Linked DNA regions of Homo sapiens: region 1 is linked to region 2. Evidence: fine-mapped expression QTL. A gene starts in region 2. The other region holds a variant in brackets. All regions are shown on one strand. Distances are from middle to middle.

What was found. PIP is the estimated chance that this variant, and not a neighbour inherited with it, causes the effect. A credible set is the group of variants that fine-mapping cannot tell apart.
Region 1: its variant is the best candidate, but not a certain one, in a credible set for the expression of YJEFN3 in tibial artery (GTEx, PIP 0.67).

Annotation. Positions count from the first base shown.
Region 1 is chr19:19,237,694-19,240,588 of GRCh38, reverse strand. NCAN (neurocan) reads right to left here. Exons shown (of 15, transcript NM_004386.3): 11 at 2,178-2,336. Among named protein-coding and RNA genes, the nearest start is that of HAPLN4, 24 kb to the left of the region's middle. The variant C/T (reference allele first, on the strand shown) is at 1,295.
Region 2 is chr19:19,527,163-19,529,984 of GRCh38, reverse strand. It overlaps YJEFN3 (YjeF N-terminal domain containing 3), which reads right to left and starts at 1,074. Exons shown (of 7, transcript NM_198537.4): 1 at 994-1,074; 2 at 472-621. The coding sequence starts at 1,052. NDUFA13 (NADH:ubiquinone oxidoreductase subunit A13) reads right to left here. Exons shown (of 5, transcript NM_015965.7): 3 at 2,633-2,704; 4 at 2,215-2,284; 5 at 1,787-1,978. The coding sequence ends at 1,859. RefSeq lists enhancers at 1-339, 1,315-1,815.

The sequences.
Region 1 (2,895 bases), 290 kb after region 2:
GTTGTGGGTCTGGGTGTTCACCCATGCCTCTCCTGGCCCAGGGCACAGGCTGCAGGTGAGGTGGGGTAGGGTGTGGGAGGAAAGAATTCCTCACCTTCCCCAGCCTGGAGGTGGGCTGGGTGGGGGGAAAGATCTAGAAGGTGGAAATGAAGAGGGAAGAAGCAGGTACAGGGATGGAGGAGGACCCAGAGCCCCTCCCTCAGCCTCTCTGTGGGCTGGGGGCCGGGTGAGGTATGTATGGGAGGGGAAGACTCAGCCCCTTCCCCAGCCTGGAGGTGGGCTGGAGGTTGAGGTGGAGAGGGAAGGAGATAGAAGTGAAGTTTACAGAGGTGAGGGAGTACACAGATGCCCTCCCTAACCTCTGTAAGAGCTGGAGAAGGGAAGGGGGAAGGAAGGGAGAAGGAGAGAGATGAGGGGGAGGAAAAAGGAGGAGGAGTGAAAGGGAGGAGGGGCAGGAGTGGGAAGAAGGATGGGGAGGAGGGAGGAGGAATGGAAGGGAGGATGAGGAGCAGGAGGGAGGAGGGGGGAATGGGAGGAGGAGGGGGAGGAGAAAGGAGGAGAAAGATCAGTGGAAGAAGGAGGGGGAGGAGTGGGAGGGAGGATGGGGAAGAGAAAGGAGGAGGAAGATGAGTGGAAGGAGGAGGCAGAGGAATGGGAGGGAGGAAGGAGAGAAGAGGGAGGAGGAAGGGAAGGAGAAAGGAGGAGAAAGATGAATGGAAGGAGGAGGGGAGGAGTTGGAGGGAGGAGGGGGAAGAGTGGGAGATGAATGGGGAGGAGAAAAGAGGAGGAGTGGAAGGGAGGAGGAAGAGCAAGGGGAAGAGGAAGGAGAAGGAGGAGGAGTAGAAGGGAGGAGGCCTGGGGAGGAGCAGGAGGGAGGAGGGGATGAATGGGAGGAGGGAGAGGCAGGATGAGGAGCAGAAAGGAGGAAGAAGATGAGTGGAAGGAGGAGGGGGAGGGAAGGGGGAGGAGAGGAGAGAGGAAGAGGAGGAATGGGAGGAGGAGAGGGAGGAGGGGAGGGAGGATGGAGAGGAGAAAGGAGGTGGAAGATGAGTGGAAGGAGGAAGGGGAGGAGAGGAGGGAGAAGGGGAGGAGTAGGAGGGAGGAGGAGAAAGAATGGAAGGAGGAGGGAGAGGAGGGGGAGGGAGGATGGGGAAGAGGGAGGAAGAGGTATAGAAGGAGGAGGGGGAGGAGTGGGAGGGAAGATGGGGAGGTAGGAGGGAAAGGAAGGAGGAGGAGGGTAGGGGGCAGGCATGAACCCCTCTCCCAGCCTCAGTGTAGGCTGGAGGTGCATCCT[C/T]ACCCCACCCTCCACAAGTGGGGACTCTGGCTACCCTCTTTTAGGGGGGTGAGGCATGGGAAGAACCGGAAGTAGGCCCAGGCTATCCCAGGGTTTGTGGCCAGGAGAAGCAGGAGTAAACCCGGGCACTGTTGCATCTTTGCAGAAATGAGAAGTAGGGGACAGGAGACGCCAGTGGGCGCTGGACGGGCAGATAGGTGAGAAGGCGCGAGCCAGTCGCTCAGGAGGGAGAGGCCCAGTGGGATACATCAAGGAAAAAGAAACAAATCAGGGAAGGAAGAAAGGAAGGAGTCACGAGGGATGGGATGGTGGCAAACGGAATAAACAGAATAAATGGATGGATGAGCAGAAGGCAGAGGGATAATGAATAAATCAATAAGTCCCGGATTACATGAATGGAACACTTGTCTCTCTCCTAGGTCTTTGAACACATTACAGGTGCTTCTCCCATCACCCTCCATCTCCTGGCCCTGTTTTGTTATCAGCACACATAGGATCTGTTGAATTACAGTATAGACTTATTTACTTAGATATTTACTTGTTTGTCTATATCCTCCCCAAGAAATGGTCACTCCCTGGGGACAAAGCAAAGTCAGCCTTGATTGCTGCTGTGCTGTGTCAATATTCCTGGAATGGTGCCTGGCATATAGCAGGTGCTCAGTAAATATTTGGTGAATGAATGAATGAAGTGAATGTATGAATTAACAAGTGAATTGACAGATTTCATGCATTAAGAAGCAGTCAGGGCTTGCGTTAATGAACACAGCTTTGGAAAGATGACGTCTTGAAAACCAGGGGAGGGATGCGATGCCCTGGCAAAAGGGCTACAAGTGCCACCCCTGCCCACCCTCCAGGCAGGTGGCCCCCTCCCCAGAGCCCCTACTATTAATGAAGCTGTGTTCCTCCGGTGAGTGGACGCTGGTCAGGTGGCCGGAGCGGCGGCGGCAGTCCTTCTCGGCATCTTCCCATGCCCTCCGGTGGGCAAAATAGCGGTAACAGTGGCCCTGGAACTTATGCCAGCCGCGGTCACAGCCCTCGGTGTCTGGGAGATGGGATAGGAGCGTGAGGGGGGGCTGGCCTTGGCCCAAGGCCTACCAGCCATGAGCACAGCCAGCCCACCAGAGAGAGGGCCCAATCCAAGGTCACTGCGGGGCGAAATCACCCCTCTCCCCATGCCTGGCCCCTCCTCCTGAGGCTCTGCTCTCCCAACCCTTTCACCTCCCATATTGACTTCTTTTTTTTCTTTTTTTTTTGGACAGGGTCTCACTCCGTCGCCCAGGCTGGCGTGCAATGGCACAATCTCGGCTCACTGCTACCTCCGCCTCCCATACTCAAGCAATCCTCCCACCTCAGCCTCCTGAGTAGCTGGGATTACAGGCGTGCGCCACCACGCCCACCTAATTTTGTATTTTTAGTAGAGATAGGGTTTCACCATGTTGGTCAGGTTGGTCTCAAACTCCTGGCCTCAAGTGATCTGCCCACCTCAGCCTCCCAAAATGCTGGAATTACAGACGTGAGCCACCACACTGGCCAAATCTTAATGTCTTTTCTTTGTTTCTGGAAGAGATTTAACTGGGAGATCATTCCCTGACACCCCCTCT
Region 2 (2,822 bases):
ATGAGCCTGGGGGGGCTTTGAAAACTCGAACACCAGATTGCATCACCGGGTCCCAAACCTGCTGATGGCTCCCGAGGGCTCTGGGAACATTCAAACTCCAAACTCCTCACCATGCCTAAGAGGCCCTTCTGTGTCTCCAGCCTCGTCAGCCAGTTCCCCACTACGTTCTAGCTCCTACCCACCCCTGAGAGCCCCCTCACTCCCCTCACTTAGCATTTGAGGCCCCCCTCACCTCACCCCTTCACCCCAAGGTGAAGTCACAGCTCCTAAAACACTCTTCCCTAGACTGAGTCTGGACATCGGCTGAGGGGACACGTGCCCTGCTAGGTGGGCAGTGGGCAGGAGCTGTTGGACGCATCTGGTTCACAGTGAGGTCAACAGCCTTGCCTGGGGTCCCATGTCACAAAGGCTGAGGAGGATGAGGTGAGAGTCACAGCCACGGCGCCAGTTCTAGATCCCAAACTCACCAACCTCTGGCAAACAGGCCCTGCGTTCCAAATCTGCTCTAGCCATGACTGCCTTCCCCAGGCCTGTTTCCTCCTCTGGACAAGGGAGGTGGTAGCATTTGAGCTAAGCTCCGCTCTTCCCATGTCGGCAAGTGGGGGCTGCAGCTCCAAGGCCCTGGGAGAGATGGAGAGTGGGGGTGGGCCACGGTTGGGGTTCGGTGGGGGAGCGACCAGCGCTGCTGATGAATCATTCATGAGGGGCGGGCTGCCCCGGAGGCAGTTTCCCCAGCAACGCAGCTTAGTGTCTCCAGCAAGATGCCAGGAGGGTCTCGGATTCCCGGGATTCCCAGGCCCGTCTTGGCCATATCCCTGCCTCCGGTTCCCCACCGTGGTCATGCCTCTGCCGTTGAACCTCCATCCCGGCTGTGCCCGTCTCCAGTCCCCGGACCCCATTCTGTCCCAGCTATGACCCTGCCTCCGGTCCTACGGGCTGCTCCTGGCCCCATGGGAACCATGCCCGTCTCCAGCTTCCCTCTCCCCAGCTGACCTGAGGAAATGCCGCTCTTCGGGCGCCTCCGACGGGTCTGGGCCGGCTGCGCTGCTCATGGCCGAGGTGAGCCCGGGCGCCGGGCGCTGCCGCCACCGCCACCGCCTTTTAAGCGCATCCGTGGAGGGAGGGGACGCCCCCTCTTCTCCTCCCTCCCGCCCACCCTGCATGCCCGCCAATCAGGAAGCGCCGCGAAGGCGCTGCGCGTCACCATTGGTCGGTGGACTCAGACGGACTTCACCCTTTCGTGCCAGGAGCCCACAGCAGAGGCACCTGGCCAATCTTGGTTGCTTCCCCCGACTTACTTTCCCTGCAGATATCCCCGTGTCTCTGAGCTTCCCTCTCAGGGAGCGAGGAGCCCCTCCGCAGACAAATACCCTCGCCATGCCTACAATTGGCAGGGCTGCACAAGGTATGGTGGCTCACGCCTGTAATCCTGTAATCGCAGTGACACGGGAGGCTGAGGCGGGAGGATCACTTGTATCCGGGAGGTCAAGGCTCCCCCCACTCTCCAGACCTCCGTGGAGAAGGTCTGACCCAAAGCTGACCCAGGGGCCCCCAGCCTGGAGAGGTAAGTGGGCTGCTGACAGGCATGGTTTCAAAAGGGAGGCAGGAGAGTCCAGGTATATCGGAGGCAGAGAGGAGGCCGCCAGTGGATCCAGGGGCAGCCCCTAGGTGTGTTTTGAGGTCACCCTGTGCATATCTGCTGCGTCCCCATGCTACATGTGATCCGGTGGTGCCTAGCTGGGCCCTCTCCCCCTTCTTTCCCCCAGTCCCCAGGAAAACAGGCAGGCCAGGTCTGCAGAGCATTTATTCCGTCCCAGTGGGGAGGGGCAGGGATCCAGGTGGCCGGAGGGCACAGGGCCTACGTGTACCACATGAAGCCGTGGCTGGCATGGAGAGCCTCCTCTGTGGTGCGCAGCCCGTACAGCTCCCCGATCAAGGGGGGCACCCAGCGGGTTGTGTGGAACACAGACTCCCCCACCTGTGGGGACAGTGGGGTATGGGTAGAGGCACAGCCACCCATATACAGCCTGCTAGGACCCATCCCCCAGGATCAGTGGCCCCTGTGCGTGGCAGGCGCTACAGCCTTCCCTTGTGGGACCTGGCACCCACCACCCCCTTGGTCCTGGGGTTTCTATAGAAAGCTGTGGGAGCTCCCCAACCCCAGGCCCTGTCTCTGCCGTGGCTGGCACCTCTGCCCTCCCAGCCGGGACCCACCTTCCAGTCGGGCACGTCCTTCATGATGATGGCCTCCTCCTCCAGGTTCTCCCGAAGCATCTGCAAGGTCCTGTGGGGATGGGGCCGATGGTGGGGGTGGGGCCTCAGTGCCCTGAGGGGCCCCTGCCTAGGGCCCCTAGTAGCACCCCTTCAAGCCTCCCTCCGACCCTGTCTCCTTTTCCCCCAGCCAACTCCTAGCTTTTCTCTTGCCCCAACCCCAGTGCTGCCTCCTCCTCCAGGAAGCCTTCCGGTTCGCCCCCTTGGGTCTCCACTAAGTCTCCACGCCTGAGGATGCAGCTGACGGCACAGGGCGATGGCCCCCACGTGCATTCTGGCCACCTTCGGGGATGCAGGTCAGGCCCTGCAGCCTGGGGCCTTCCGGCCAGTGACCTCCCAACCTTGGCCCCTGCGGTGCTACCTCCGGTCGGTTTCTGCCTGTAACAGTGGCAACAGCGCGATGCGAGCCTCGAAGTCCTCGATTTGTAGGCGCCTGTGAAAGCCCGAAACCCACACTCAGGTCAGACCAGGCTAGGTCGGGGGAGCACAGGCAGCACAGACCTCAGGGGCCAGGGTGCTGCTGGGGGAAGAGGCGGAGGGGGGCGGGGAGG